Regions from separate parts of the Homo sapiens genome. Here region 2 is linked to region 1. Evidence: fine-mapped expression QTL. A gene starts in region 1. The other region holds a variant in brackets. All regions are shown on one strand. Distances are between the middles of the regions. Region 1 holds the start of ARID2 (AT-rich interaction domain 2). Region 2 overlaps ARID2 (AT-rich interaction domain 2).

Region 1 (8,336 bases):
AATTTAATTTTTTAGTTGTCTTATTAAAAAGTCTTTAATTGAAAATTATCACTTAAAAATCAAACTGGATTTAATGTACAAAGCATAATCTCCAATATCTACTGAAAATAAATTTTTAAAAAAATCCCACATTTCTGATTTCTCTTTAAGAGAAAAAAAAATTAAAAAATTCCCCAAAGCTTATCAGATTTTTTGGGCCAAATCATCCAGAAATCTATCTATAAAAGATTCAGAGTATATTCAGGGCATTAAAATTACCCTACTCTGAAGTAGAATAAACTATTTCCTTATCTTTTAAAAGCTTAGTTATCAACACTGCTTAGAATTACCATCAGAGTGTCTGTATTAAGATTACCCTAATCTGCAGTAGAATAAACTATTTCCTCGCCTTTTAAGAGCTTAGTTATCAGTACTCCTTAGAATCACCCTAAGAATGGAAGGGCTTCATCTAGGATTTGATATTGTAATCAAATTTTCAAATAAGACAAATTAGTCCACATAAAAAAGTATAGCAGTAGGTACAGGCAACAGAAGCCATGAACGCATTCTCGAAGCTCGCCAAGGAATTTTTCTCTAAAATCATCTTTAAGGAAATATCAATTTAACTTCAATAGCCTTGTTTAACGAATCAAACTATTTTTTTAAATCTTAGAGTGACCTAAAATCCCAAAATTTCTCCACTGAGTTGGCATACCAATTCCTCAATTTATTTCAGCTGTTGTAATCATACACCTGATAATGCTTGATTTGAAACTGGGTACAGTTTTTTAAGGTTTAGTTGAATGAGGGAATTTTTAATTTATCACAATTTCCTGACTAATATGAAAACTGATGGTAAGAATGAAAAATTCAAATAAAATAACATAAACCTCTAATTACGGCGTGCAGCGTTTGCAGTTACAAAAGCAACACTACATTTTTCCCATCATAAGCGCTTTGTCATCAAAACAGTAAACTATACAAATTGGATTGCAACAATTTCCACTGTTATTGGTAATTTTTTAATAGGAACACTTTCCATTAATGCTTGAAAACTACGAACTACATTTTATTTTATATCTTGTCAAATTAGTTGGAGAATATCTATTGTAAAGCTGTCAGCACATCTCTAACATTACTTTGTCAGGATCCACCTGCTCTATGCTGCCCACTATAGGAAATGCAATATGGTAATAAGAAATGTAATAGAAGGTTACTTTAGTACAATCTCATAAAAAACATACTCTGACTCTACTTGGATGCTAAATGTGGTGTTTTTGCAAGAGATACAGACTGATTAGTGGCAATCAAATTTATTAACTGTAAAGGACATCAATAAGAACAGACAGGACCAGAAATTGTATCTTGGTGATCCACATGCCAGGAGTAGCGCGGCAGAGGATGGAGAGTGGAACTTAGCGATTGAGGCGCAGCCTGCAGAAAGCTGCACTTCTGCACTAGAGATTAAATAAGAGGGTCAAAATCAACATAAACTAAACCCTTTTTCAAAGTCATGTAAACACAAATGATTGCTGCAACTGGAAAACAACATTGAAAATAAATGATTCGTGTGATGCATATCGATTTCAACAAACCTTTCCTTAAACCTTTAACGTTACTCTTACAAGCAAATACCGTTAATAGCTTACTTCTGTCTTAATTTTTCTAACCACAGGAAAATTGAAACATAAGTAATCTGATAAACATCAAGTTTTACGTTGATGCTTTTGACCACAGGGTATATACAGTGTTAAGAATTTAAATTCTATCCATCAGATATACTTTAGGACTCCATTTTGAAGATAGCCTCTTCTACAGAAAAGAAATTTTTAAAAGTCAATTCTCCAGTTTCTCATCACATCTTAATTTTTTTAAAAAGGCTTTTAAACACTAGTATCACTCCAAGTCTTTAGCCTTTGATACTTGCTCTGAAAACACACTATCGTATGTTTGTGTATGTACACACACACACACAACAGTGACTTAAAAGTGGCAACCGCCTCTTGAAAAGTAAAAATATGTCATCCCTCCATTCTGCCCTTAAATGAGAAATAAAGACAATAGATTTGCCCACTGCAGACTGGGATACCAGAAAAGACGTTCTAAGTCTCGCCTGAGACAATATTAACCTGCTATCTTAAGTCCCAACTTGGATGACTTAAATTTCAGTGTACGTGCCTCCGTTCCCACTCTTGCCCCATCAGCTCCATCAGCATCGTCATCCCCGGCTCGGATCCCGGCCGCGACCCGCCAGGGCCGCCGGAGTCCGCGAATACCGCCCGCTCCCAGCAACGAAGCTCCCCGGCTCCCGGCCGACCGCGAGTTCCTGGAGCAGCAGCCTCCAAGGTTCCCAAAGCCCACGATTCAGGCGAGCGGTGCCGACCGGGCCGTGGACTGTGGCATTTTAAAACTACAGAAGTCTCACTGCACGACTGGCGCGGCCGAGGTGGCCCAGGAGACCCTCCAAGAGATTCTGGTCAGCTGCCGGGAGCGTGGAAGAGCAACCAAAGCCACCAAGGCGCCGCGCCAAGTCCCCGGAGCAGTCACCTCAGCTTTCCGTTCTCCCTCTAGTTACAATTACTCCACAGGCTTCTGGCGCTTCCTTCGAGAAAATGAAAAACTAAAAACGCGTAGAGGTGGTAGAAGTCGTTGGCATTTTCCGTTTAATGTGATCCCCCAGGCTCCATCCCTTAAGTGGGGTTTCCAAACTCGGATGCATCCTCAGCAGAGGTTTTCCATGTTGACAGATCTCTCGCCTCCCACAAAATGGGGCCGGGGAGGCGGCCGCGGTCTCCTCTATGGGCGCCGCCATTTTGTGAGGCGGCGGCGGCGCGGCGGCAGGAGCCCGGGGTGTGTATAATGGTTGAATAGAATGACCCCCTCCAGGGAATCCCCGGCACTGACGGTTACGTAAGGGGCTGTGCGCAAGTGCGGCGTTTAGGGAATCCGCACAGCCCGGGCCACGCAGCTCCGAGGCCCACATCTCCACTTCCCCTAAGAGGACCGATGGGGGAAGGGACAGCTGACCGGGTCTTCCTCGCAGCAGCCTCACCCCTAGTCTTCCGCGGCCGGCGAGCTTCTCCACCTCCCCGGGCCGGGTCTCCGCCCCTCACAGGCTTCCGAGACACTCACTGGCCCTGGGTTGTCAGGATCTTCCTAGCCACAACCTTATTCCGACCCCACTTAAGAGACAAACTTTAGTTGGGAAATAAGTCCGTTTCCTAGAGTGAGCACCGGAAGCAAGCTGCACTATATTACATAATTTTTCACCTCCAAAGCAATGTTCCCATTGGAACGACTACCTGAAATAACCCATCCAGACCCCTACTACCCTGTGACCTTGGGTTAGGCAGTGACTTTGCCCGTGGTGGCCGTCACTAAAATGGGAATAATAATACGTTTCACGTACTGTAATCTTAATTAACATTTGTAGCAAAGAGCCGGCTCCAACACCCCTCGTAAATGCAAATTTAGGTGGTAGTATTTGTTGAGATGTTTTGACTCATTTAAGCAAAGGGTTTTTTTAACCTTCAAAATATTTTAAACGAGGATTACATTTAAGACATTTGAAAGCAAGGAAAAACGTTTTATTCGGTATTTATTTTAAACGCAGCAATCTTGAAGAGACCTTACTATAAAAATGTAAACCTTAATTATTATTGTCGAAGTTCGATAGATTGCTTCCCAACCAGTTTAGTTAGTTTGCATAACTTTGCTCATAGAATACTCCAGTTTGATATGTGAAGCCAACCAGCGGCAAGATGAATTAAGAGCATTACTCTATTTCCACAGAACTAGGACAGACAGTTCACATTGTATTTAACGTATAGTTTGCTAAAGTTAGCGTGTGGATAATTCATAGAAAATGTGCTAACCAGGCCCCAAAATACTAGCATACGGCTCATAAAAGCCGATTCCTTTAGATTTTACAAAAACAGAAGGTAACAAATTGACTTTATTCCGATCTGTGAATGTTGCGTAGCGTGAGGGGCTACCCCGGTGAGCTTCCTTTCCCTTCAGAGCGCCACACCGGTTCTGTCGGGCGGGCGGGGACTCCGAGGCGGCCCTTCCAACAGCCGGGCCGGGGACGCGAACATCGCCTCCACCCCTAACCCTGGAACAACCGGTAGTGGCCGTTTCCCCGCACCGCCCCCCTTTCCGCCGGCTTTGTGTGCGTGTGAAATGTGCGGCACATTGCAGACGAACCCTAAGCCCGGCGAGTCGAGTCTATTGTTCCCCGCGAGGATCTGCCGGGGCGGTGTGGAGCCAGGCGCAGTGCCGCGGCCAGCCCTCGGGGGTCGCTGTGTGGCACTGGCTGCCAGGCCGTGGCGGCGGCAGAGAGGGAGGCTGGCGGGGAGGGAAGCAGGCGGGCGGCGCGCAGCGGCTCAGCTGCCGCCGGTGCTTCTGCCCGGGGACGCCCCGGCCTCAGCGGCCGAGGCCGCGCGTGAATGTGTGCGAGGGCCCCGCGGAGCCGGGGCCGAAATACACGCTGTCACCGCGCTTTCCACAAACCACCACACAGACCTCCCCCTCCCCACCCCCAGCCCCGCCTGCCCTAGCCCCGCCGCCGCCGCCGCCGAAACTCTTGGGCCTCTGGCCGCCCAGACCCCTCACCATCGGCTCGCCTTGCCCGTCGCCCGCTCGCGCGCCCCCGGCAGCAGCACCATGTTGAATCGCGTCCCCGGGCTGAGCTGCCTCAGCCGGCGGCGCTGAGAGGCGGGCGAGAGCCGGGCCACGGGGAGGGAGGGAAGGAAGGGGTGGGGGCCGCGCTCGCCCCGCGGCTTCGCGCGGATCCGGCAGTCGCCTGCCCTTCTAGTTTCGCTCCGATTTCTTTAAACTTTTTTAGAAATTCCCCTCCCTCCTTCCCTCCTCTCCCCCTGGCCTCCTGCTCCCTCCTTCCCCTCCTCCTCCTCCTCCCCCTCCCTCCCTCCCTCCCTGCGCCGCCGCCGCCGCCGCCGCCGCCGCCGCCGCCGCCACCGCCGGCCCATGACTGAGCCCCGCCGCCGCCGGCCGAGGAATGGGCTCCGGGCTCTGGTAGGAAGCGCTGGGAGCGGGGGGCGCTTTTAAAACACCGATCTGGGTTTTTTAAAAACCTCCTTTGAAAAAATAATGGCAAACTCGACGGGGAAGGCGCCTCCGGACGAGCGGAGAAAGGGACTCGCTTTCCTGGACGAGCTGCGGCAGTTCCACCACAGCAGAGGGTGAGAGCAGAACCGGGGGGGCAGCGCCGGGGCGAGCCGGGGCGAACGGGGCTCTCCCGCCCGGGCCGGGCACGGGGTCCCGGCTGACAAGTGCGGGGCTTTTTCTCTCCCGCAGGTCGCCTTTTAAAAAAATCCCTGCGGTGGGTGGGAAGGAGCTGGATCTTCACGGTCTCTACACCAGAGTCACTACTTTAGGCGGATTCGCGAAGGTGAGTGGAAGTTTTAATTTGTATTTCCCTCTCGCTGGCCTCCTCCAAAAAGTCTCCTTTGACCCCGGAGTGGGCGCTTGGGGCTGGGGGGGTGGCCCGCGGGGGCAAAAGGCGTTCTTTTCGCTCCCAGCCGGTGGCACGGAGGCGGACGGCGGCGGGGCTGTTTTTGGCCTGGTGGCTCGCGTGCGCGCGGCGGGCGCGGGGCTCCGGCGGGCGGGCGGCCCGGCGCCGGCTCGCGCCCTGCCCGGTGCCCGGTCGGGCCGGCGGGGTCTGAGCGCCGCGGCGGGGAATGCGGGCGTGCGGGGCGCCAGCCTGAGCCCCGCGCCCGCCCCGCTCCCGCGCCGCCCGCCCGCTCGCTCGCGAGTCAGCTCTGCCGCCGCTGCCGCTCTAGCACAGGCGGAGACACACAGAGACACACAGACTCTGAGAGCAGTTTTCGTGCAACTCAAAATTAGCGCGGGCAGGTTTAACATCGATAATCGGCTGCGAAATAATCCCGGCAGCCGGGGGCACAGCCTCGGCCCCGTCGCCCTCGGTTTATACAGCTAACAAAAGAAACCAGGACCTGTCTCCAAATAGCCATCTTAGGCTTCAAGGCTAGGCAGAAGCTGTAGGCCTCAAAGAAGGGCCTATGGAGATGGATAGATCTGGGAGAGGGATCGGAATCGGCCCCAGCCCCGGCCCCCCCCCCAACCCGCGGACGTCGCTGTCCGGAACTGTATTGATCCTTTTGAACTTTTTTTTTTTTTTTTTTTTTTAGTGTAAACGGACCGCGTTGAGATTTAAAAGGGGGCGACAGAGGGACTTGCGATTGGTTATTGTCCGGGCTTCAAAAACAAAACAAACCCACCAAACCCCCCCACCCCCAAACAAAACAAGTGGTATTAAATACAGGGCTCTCTGGTGAAAACACAGTGATTCAAGAAGCCCTTGCTTAGTAACTCTTACCGATCGATCCGAAACACCCACTGATGCCTTAGGTATCTACAGATCTCTGTAGAATGGGTATTTATTTCATAGTTAGGTTAAGATTTTCTTAGATTGTTCACGTTCAGACAACTGTGCCTGTGTTTTACCAGGTTTCTGAGAAGAATCAGTGGGGAGAAATTGTTGAAGAGTTCAACTTTCCCAGAAGTTGTTCTAACGCTGCCTTTGCTTTAAAACAGTATTACTTGCGGTGAGTAGTAGTGACTTTTCCATAGTATTTGGAAATAAGGGACTTATGGAGAGATTTGTTTTTAGCAAAAACAAAAGCAAACCTTGCACACCAAACAGTTCTTAAGCTCTTGTTCATTTCAGACTGAGACACATTTAATATAAATAAAGTGAGATTGTAGGAAGGTGAAAGTCTTCCTCACCAATTTCAGGATCGTTTACATTTTTCATACAAAATCATTACAGGTGACACCCCAGCCCCAATCTTGGTAAACATTCTTTTGTGACATTGTTATTCATCGCTTGATACCCACTGAGGGGCAGAAAGGTGATGCTTAGTAAAAGACTTAAGATAGTTAATGAAACTTTGTAACCTTTGGGAAAATTTTTTTCTTTGTTTTGGAAACTCCTTTAGTTTTAAAAATTCTGGCTTTAAGAATTTTTTTTTTTTAATGAAACTTCTTGTTTGGAACAGTGTCATTGAATAGGTTTTTCAGTAGAATATTCCTACATGGCATAACATGTTGGTGGCTTAGGTGACCAGGATTGTTTTGATAATTACTTTTTGTTGAATTTCCAGTGACTTAAATTAGTAATTTAAATTAGATAATTTAAATTATTATATCTTTAGGAAAATGGGGATACTATGAAATGGGATACTATAATCTGGATTTTCTTTCATTCTCCCTCTTCTTCTTTGACTGCTTATTCGGCAAAGTTTAATTTCTTATTCAGTTGGTATGTGATACAGTCTAGATGATATATTTTGTGATTTAGCGTTTTTTTTTTTGCCTCTAGTTTTTCTTCTAGGAATACTTTCATACTGTAATTTATCATGATGCTGTGTTTTATTTTTAAAGTGCTTATCTTAGAGGATCCTAAGTTAGTTGGTGTTATTAAAAACTAAAATGATATTCTTTGTATTTATTGCTTTTTAATAGTGATAGTACAGGCCTTTTTTTGTAAGGTGGCTTCTGCATAATTTGAGTTTTGCATTTATTATTGCTTCAGATGCACTCAGTTATTGTGTATTACGTTCAGCATTCTGAAATAGGAAATGCAGTAATCGCACAGGTGTACTTTCTATTGGCTATCTTAGATTGACTTCAGGCTTGAAGCTGGAGTTCGCAGAACTTTGTGGAGTAGTTATTGAGTTACACAGGAAGTCTAGAAAATATTAAATATGGTTGTCATCTATTGTGTGTGTGTGATGGCATTTGTGTCAGAGTACATTTTAAATTAAAGGGCTAAATCAAAAAGCAAAATTAACCTCCAAAACCGTTGAGTTAGTAGTGGGGTGAGAAACAAGAGAGTTTTATATTCATCGTGACATTCATTTGCTCATTTCTATTTATGATATTGAGAGGAACATGTTAATACATATTCTGGTTTTATGTTTTTATCAGTTTAAAGCATTTGAATTTTGGACTGTTTGAAATACATATTTTTGAAGTTTTGCTTCATATTTGTTAGATTGATTGACTTAAGTTTTATAACCAGAAAGTACTATAGAATATACATGATTCATGAGATGTATATTTTTCTGAAGAGTTTACATTCATACTAATAGTTTTAGCATAATCAAATTAATATCTAGGCTTCCAATTTTTTTTAACAAAAGTTAATTATAAATATTGTTTTTCCAGTTGTCATTTTTATCTTGGGAGGATATCATTAATTATAGGTACTGTTTTTAACTATATAGTTTCAACATTGTAAGTATTTACATGGTCTTCAGATCAAATTGGGCTTTTTGCTCTTATTAGAAGCTGCTTTTTGAACTATGTCCTTA
Region 2 (8,336 bases), 22 kb after region 1:
TGGCTGATGTGTAAAGATTTTGTAGAGACCAGGGCTTTCTGTGTTGCCCAGGATGGTTTCCAACTCCTGGCCTCAAGTGATCCTCCTGGCTTGGCCTCCCAAAGTGTTGGGATTGCAGACCTGAGCCACCCACCCAGCCTGATTCTATTACTGTAAATATCTAGACAAAGGGATGGTAGGGAGATATGTTTTAAAAACAGTCAATGTAACATATGCTAAAGTTTTTTTTTTAAGTATTTTTCTTATGAAACTTTAATAGTATACTTTTGGTTTATGATACCATGTTGAATCTTTTAAAAAGCAGACTATTAAGTTTATATTTTTTTAGCTAACATTTATTTAATTTGCCATGTGCCGGGCACTGCACCAAGTGGTAACTCATTTTCTCTTCACACCTCCCTATGACATAGATACTGTTAATATCCTGGTATTATAGATGAGAAAACAGGACAAAGGTGTTTAAGAACCTTGCCCAGGTTCACACAGTAAGTTCTGGATCTAGTATTTTTTTTTTGAGACGGAGTCTCGCTCTGTCACCCAGGCTGGAGTGCAGTGGCGCGATCGAGGCTCACTGCAAGCTCCGCCTTCCGGGTTCACGCCATTCTCCTGCCTCAGCCTCCCGAGTAGCTGGGACTACAGGCGCTCGCCACCATGCCCAGCTAATTTTTCTTTGTATTTTAGGTAGAGATGGGGTTTCACCGTGTTAGCCAGGATGTTCTCGAACTCCTGACCTTGTGATCCGCCCGCCTCAGCCTCCCAAAGTGTTGGGATTACAGGCGTGAGCCACCGTGCCCGGCTGGACCTAGTATTTAAACCTGGAATCTAGGCATATTATACTGTCTTCCCCCAATTCACATGAATATAATTTTATTAAAAAGTATTTGAAGATAAGGACTTCAAGGGAATAAAAATATGAAAATGGTTAGGGTAGTTGTGGGATTGTGGCTTTTTATTTTTATTTAAAAAATTCTTTAATGTATCTTTTTGTAATAACGTGTGTGTTGCTGTACAGTTTATAGTTTATTTTTACAAATATTTATCTCAGTGGATTTTTGCAACAACTCTAGGAAATAGGTATTATCCTCTTGTAGATCAGGGAAAAAGCCTGTAAGTACCATTGCTAGTGCAGAATTAGAGTTTAGTTTTGTGAGTTATAGTGTACTGCTCCTAGTTTACTATCAGAGTCTTGGGGTCAAGGATTTTTTTTTTTTAATGGCAATGCACTTTTTGGCATCTGATACATTGTAGCTGAACTGAATTAGGATCTCCTGTCACTTGGGGAGCTTCTTATGAACTCAGGTGGGTATGGTAGGCCTCTCAGCAAGTGGGAAATCTAATTTGGGAAATTCTGAAAGAATTGAAAATTTCTAACTTACAGAATTAATAGTATAGCATTTCATTCGTCTGTCCCTAAAGCTTAACATTTTTTTGTGTGGTTTTATTAAACAAGCATCAAGAGTCAGTTGTAGTTGTAGAATATTAATTAACATTGTGGTAAATGTGTCATTTTGTGCAATTCTATGCAGTACTTGAAGTTGTTTTTAAGTAAAATAGACACTAATGTCTCCCTATCTGTCTTCACAAGCTACAATATGAGACTAGAGAGTCTTGTGTAGGGTAAGATTTGAGAGAGTAATACAGACATGCCTGAGAGATGCTGTGGGTTTGATTCCAGACCACCACATTAATATATATGATAGTAAAATGAGAGTGAATTTTTTGGTTTCCCAGTGCACAGACAAGTTATGTTTATATTATACTGTAGTATATTAATTGTTCAGTAGCATTATGTCTCAAATAACAATGTACGGCCAGGTGTGGTGGCTCAACGCCTGTAGGCCCAGCACTTTGTGAGGCTGAGGCAGGAGGATTGCTTGAGGCCAGGAGTTTGAGACAACCTAGGCAGTCTCAAGCTGCCTAGTGAGTTTGAGACGTAGTGAGACCCTGTCTCTACAAAAGAAAATGTTTTAAGTAGCTGGTTATGATGGTGCATATCTGTGGTCCCAGATACTTGGGAGGCTGAGGTGGAAGGATTGCTTGAGCCTGGGAGGTTGAGGCTGCAGTGAGCCATGATTGTGCCACTGGACTCCATCTAGCCTGGACAATAGAATGATACCTTGTCTCAAAAAAAAGAAAACAAAAATACTTTATTGCTGAAAAGTGCTGACAATCATCTGAGTTTTCAGTGAGTCATAATCTTTTTACTGGTGAAAGGTCTTGCCTTGATATTGATGGCTGCTGACTGATCAGGGTGGTGGTTACTGAAGATTGGGGTGGATGTGGAAATTTCTTAAGACAACAATGAAGTTTGCTGCATCGATCAACTCTTTCTTTCACGAGAGGTTTCTCTGTAGCATGTAATGCTGTTTGGTAGCAAATTACCCACAGTAGAACATAATTTGAGTCAGTCCTCACAAACCCTGCCACTGCTTTATCAACTAAATTTATATACTGTTCTAAATCCTTTGTTGTCATTTCAGCAATGTTCACAGCATCTTCACCGAGAATACATTCTATCTCAATAAACCATTTTCTTTGCTCATCCCTGAGAAGGAACTCCTCATTAATTCAGGTTTTATCATGAGATTGCAGCAGTTCAGTCACATCTTCAGGCTCCACTTCTAATTCTAGTTCTTTTGCCATTTGCACATCTGCAATGACCTCCTCCACTGTAATCTTGAAGCCCTCAAAGTTATCTACGAGGATTGGAAACAATGTCTTCAAAACTGTTAATGTTCATATTTTAACCTCCTATGAATCACAGATGTTCTCAATGGCATCTAGAATGGTGAATCCTTTTCAGAAGGTTTTCAGACTACTTTGCTCACTTCCATCCAGGGAATCACTGTGGCAGCTATAACTGTACAAAATGTATTTCTTAAGTAATAGACTAGAAAGTCAAAATGACTCCTTGTTCCATGGGCTGTAGAATGGATGTTGTGTCAGCAGCATGAAAACAACATTCATCTCCTTGTACATCTCCATCAGACCTCTTGGGTGACCATTGTCAGTGAGCAGTAATATTTTGAAAGTGATCTTTTTTTTTGAGCAGCTGGTTTCAACACTGAGCTCAAAACATTCAGTAAACCATGCTGTTAACAGATGTACTGTCATCCAGGCTTTGTTGTTTCATTTATAGAGTACAGACAGAGTAGATTTAGCATAATTCTTAAGGACCCTTGGATTTTCAGAATGGTCATTGAGCATTGGCTTTGACTTAAAGTCACCAGCTGCATTAGCCCCTAACAAAAGAGTCAGCTTTTCCCTTGAAGCTTTGAAGCCAGGCATTGACTTTTCCTTTCTAGCTCTGAAAGTCTCAGATGGCATCTTCTTCCAATAGAAGGCTTTTTCATCTATGTTGAAAATCTGTTGTTTAGTGTAGCCAGTTCTATCATTTACCTTAGCTAGATCTTCTGGATATCCTGCTGTAGATTCACTGTCACCACTTGCTGCTTCACCTTGCACTTTTATGTTATGAAGATAACGTCTTTTTGTAAACCTCACAAACCAACAACCTTTGCTAGCTTCAGACTTTCCTTCTGCAGCTTCCTCACTTCTCTCAGTCTTCCTTGAATTGAAGAGAGTTACGACCTTGTTCTGGATTAGGCTTTGGCTTAAAGGAATGTCTGGCTGGTTTGATCTTCTGTCTAGACCACTCAGACTTTCTACTTACCAGCCATAAGGGTGTTTCACTTTATCATTTGTGTGTTCCCTGGAGTAGCACTTATTTTTCTTCAAAACTTTCCTTTTACATTCACAACATAGCTAAATGTTTAGTGCAAGAGGTCTAGCTTTTGGCATATCTTGGCTTTTGAAATACCTTCCTCATTAAGCGTAATCATTTCTAGCTTTTGATTTAAAGTGAGAGATATGCAACTCTTCCTTTCACTTGAACGCTTAGAGGCCGTTGTGGCCTAATTTCAATATAGTTGTGTCTCAGGGTATAGGGATGCCCAAGGAGAAGGGAGAGAAATGGGAGAATGACCAGTCAGTGGAGTAGTCAGAACACACACAGTATTTATTAAGTTGCTTTCTTATGTGGGTACAGTTTGGGGTGCCCCCAAACAAATAGAATATTAGCATCAAAGATTACTGATCAGAGATCACCATAATGGATATAATAATAATAATGAAAAAGTTTGAAATATTGGGAGAATTACCAAAATGTGACACAGAACTGTGAAGTGAGCACATGGTTTTAAAAAATGATGCCGATAGACTTGCTTCAACTTGTTAAACCTTCAATTGGTTTTAAAAAAGATAATATCTGGAAAGCACAATAAAATGAGGCACAATAAAATGAAGTATGCCTGTATTGACTTTGTTTTAAACTGATATGTGAGGATCCAGGGATTTTGCAAAGTAACTACTATTTTTGAAAACATGGATACGATTAATACAAATGATGTGATTACTTGGTTGGAGACATTTTGGAGTTGGGAATGTTTATTATTATAATAGATAACATTTATTGAACACTTATTATTTGCCAGGTACTATGCTCAGCCTGCTTTATTTTAATCCCCCAAACTACCCTATAAGAATACCATCATCATCATTTTATAATGAGGAAACTAAGATTTAGAAAGGTTAAGTAATTTGTACAAGGTGACCCAAGTACAAAGTGGTGGGGCTAGAATTTGACCCAGGTCTTCTGCTTCCAGAGACCAAACTTTTACCAGCTATGTAGAATACTGCTCTTTATTCATTAATTTAATGAATAATAATTGATCACGTATCTTGTGCTAGACTCTATGCACTGGACATATATCAATGATGAGAACAGAGAAAAATTATTTCCCCTTTAGAGTGAGGGAAAGGAGACAAATAAGAGTATGCTAGCTAATAGCACAAGGAGAAAAATAAAGCAAATAAAGGGAGATGGCTTTTGCTTGAGTAGGGTGTTAAATCGTTAGACAAACTGGACTGGAAAAGTCTTAGCAAGAGTTGAATACAGACTTAAAGGAGAGAAAGGAGCAAACCAGGTGGATATTTGGGATAAGAATGAACAAACAGCAAGAGAGTATGCTTGGTATGTTCAAAGAACATTTAGGAGCCCATTGTGGCTAGCATTAGTGACCAGACCAGAGGAAAGCAGTGGAGATGAATAGATCAGAGAGGTACAATCTGGGAGCAGATCTTGTAGGGCCTCTGGAAG[A/G]TCTTTGCATCTACTGAAGCCATTGGAGGATTTTGAGCAATGAAGTGTTATCTGGATTTGTCTGGATGCTTTGTTGTGTATAGATGTTGCATGCTCAAGGGTAGAACCAAAGAGTCTTGATAGAAGGCTGAGAAAATACAGTTAGTTCTTGCTTTATGACTGGGATACATTCTAAGAAATGGGTTGTAAGGTGATTTCTTCATTGTTTGAACAACGTAGAGTGTACTTACACAAACCTAGCTGGTAGAGCCTACTACACACCTAAGCTATATGGTATGGCCTGTTGCTTTAGGCTACAAACCTGTACAGCATGCTACATACTGAATACTGTAGGCAATTGTAACCCCATGGTAAGTATTTGTGTATCTAAACATAGCTAAACATATAAAAGGTACAGTAAAAATATGATATTATAATCTTATGGGAGCACCATTGTATATATGGTCATTGACCTAAATGTCATTTTGCAGTGCATGACTGTAATCCAGTTGAAAAATGATAGTTTGTACGACCAAGGTTCATAGCTCTTGAGATGGTAAAAAGTATTCATATTTTAGATATATTTCTAAAGTTTCAAATATAAAACTTTGAGGACTTTAATTAGCAGAGACCTCAGATATAACCCATTAGGTGCCAAGTTTTATACTTTTTCAATTTTAAACCTAATTTTCTTCTGTTATCAAAGTCTATAATATGTGTTAATAGTACACAATTTAGAAGATCCATGGAGGGAAAATATCAAGCAGTGTAATATCCTAGCATATGCAGATAAAATTATTGAACGCCATGAACAAACATCTTGGCGTATTTTTTTCTAGTCTTTTGGCATAGGATTGAACCTTAATAAATGCTGTCTACCATAAGCTAGCTCTCTGTCTCCCCTACTAAAATCTTAGCTCCTTAAAAACAGGAACTGTGTTCTTTATTTCTCTATCTTAGGTAGAGAGCACGGTGTCTGGTTCATGATAAGTGCTAGTGCTGCTTGTTTTGTTTGAATTAATTGTGCCAAATACTATATGGGATTCAATGATTTATGTTTAGTTAGGGAGGAAACACTCAGTAGGTACACTTGTAAAATAATAAGGCTGAGTTTTCTGTTTTGTTTTTTTAAGAGACAGGGTCTGGCTCTGTTGCCCAGGCTGGAGTGTAATGGTATAATCATAGCTCACCGTAGCCTTGAATTCCTGAGCTCAAGCAGTCCTTCTGCCTCACTCTCCTGAGTAGCTAGGACTCAGACTCATACCACCACACCCAGCTGATTTTTTGTAGAGGCAGGATCTCGCTATGTTGCCCAGGCCAGTAAGCAGTCCTCCTGCCTTGGCTTTCCAAAATGCTGGCATTACAGGCGTGAGCCACTGTACCAGGCCAAGGCTGATTTTTCTTAAGCAAACATAACAGAAATTAAGCTAAAACAACCACTACAGTTATCTTGAGAGGAAGTCATCGGGGATACTGTTGTTCTGTAAAGACATCATGTAGTTTACTCTTAAGAGTCAGTTTGAGTCATGCTATAAAGTTTTATTAAATTTGTTCATTAAAAGTTTTTTTCCAGCTGGGCGTGGTGGCTCATGCCTGTAATCCCAGCACTTTGGGAGGCTGAGGCGGGCGGATCACCTGAGGTCGGGAGTTCAAGACAACCAGCCTGACCAACATGGAGAAACCCTGTCTCTACTAAAAATACAAAATTAGCTGGGTGTGGTGGCGCATGCCTGTAACCCCAGCTACTCGGGAGGCTGAGGCAGGAGAATCATTTGAACCCAGAGGCAGAGGTTGCAGGAGAATCACTTGAACCCAGAGGCAGAGGTTGCAGTGAGCTAAGATTGTGCCAGTGCACTCCAGCCTGGGCAACAAGAGCGAAACTCCATCTCAAAAAAAAAAAAAAGTGTTTCCCCCCTCATGATGGTCTGTAGCGTAGTGATTTAGGAGTTGGCTCTGGAGGCACACTATCTGGGTTCAGATTTCACCTTCTCCATTCAGTCAGTTTTGTGACCTTGGGCAAGTTACTCTGCACAGTTTCACCTGTAAAAAGTAGATAATAAAGTGTGTACCTTATAGAGTTGTTTTGAGTGGTAAATACATTAGTATATGTAGTGTCTGGTATATAGTTTAATCTATAAATGCAAATTTTTATTATTTTCTGCTGATCCTGTAATTGATCTAAAACATAATCCAGGTTTCTTTTTTCTTTTTTTGAGACAAGGTCTCGCTCTGTCGCCCAGGCTGGAGTGCAATAGTGCGATTGCGTCTCACTGCAACCTTTGGTCAAGCGATCCTCCCACCTCAGCCTCCCGAATAGCTGGGACTACAGGCACGTGCCACCATGCCTGGCTAATTTTTGTATTTTTTGTAGAGACGAGGTCTCCCTGTGTTGCTCAGGCTGGTCTCGAACTCCTGGACTCAAGCGATCTGCCCTCCTTGGCCTTCCAAAGTGCTGGAATTATAGGCATGAGCCCCCATAACAACAACTTGCTTACCCACCTTATTTGCCAAATTTAGCTCTTAGTGACTTTTGCCATTTTCAACATGATGAAGTACTAAGATTTGTGATGCTTCTGGCTATATCTGATGTCATTTCTAAAGCAACTACTAAAAAGTTATTTTTAACTAATAGTATCATTGAAATACATTTATGATTTCAACAAGGTGATTACTTGGAAAATAATGTTCATTGGAATGAATACATTCTGGTTTAGTTGTTTCAAAAAACAAACTGTTGAATCTTATAGAAGCATTTCATTCACTTGAATGCATAAGTAATAGTATCAGGCAAAAAAATAATAAAAAAAGAGGGCTGAGTGATGCAGGTAAGTGCTTACATTTCTTCAGTGGCTCTCTATTGCTAAAGAAGAAAGTCCAAATATATTAGTAGGTCGTAAAAGGCCCTTCATTACTTTTCCATTCTTAATCTCCTTGCCATACCCTTGCACATCTTTTGAAGACAGATACTATGTCTTTTTTTCTGTTTTAAAGCTTGGTTAATGAACAGTCAGTACACGTTGGTAGAATTAGTTAGTAGAATTAGATCCAGCCATGCTGATCCATTTATAGTTCTCCAAGCATGCCAAGTTTTTCTCACCTTTCTGCCTTTGCATGTGCCATTTTCCCTGTCTGGAATTCCTTTCCTTTTTTCATTGCCTGACATACTCCTACCTATCTTTGAAATTGAACACAAATGTCA

What was found.
Region 2: its variant is fine-mapped to the expression of ARID2 in whole blood (INTERVAL, PIP 0.96).

The regions. Positions count from the first base shown.
Region 1 is chr12:45,724,749-45,733,084 of GRCh38, forward strand. It overlaps ARID2 (AT-rich interaction domain 2), which reads left to right and starts at 4,958. Exons shown (of 21, transcript NM_152641.4): 1 at 4,958-5,180; 2 at 5,296-5,389; 3 at 6,469-6,566. The coding sequence starts at 5,089. It overlaps LINC00938 (long intergenic non-protein coding RNA 938), which reads right to left and starts at 3,173. Exons shown (of 1, transcript NR_028408.1): 1 at 972-3,173. RefSeq lists enhancers at 1,801-2,763, 2,469-3,188, 2,764-3,726 and silencers at 4,239-4,658, 5,169-5,408.
Region 2 is chr12:45,746,271-45,754,606 of GRCh38, forward strand. The region is part of intron 3 of ARID2 (AT-rich interaction domain 2); the gene reads left to right. Among named protein-coding and RNA genes, the nearest start is that of ARID2, 21 kb to the left of the region's middle. The variant A/G (reference allele first, on the strand shown) is at 5,159.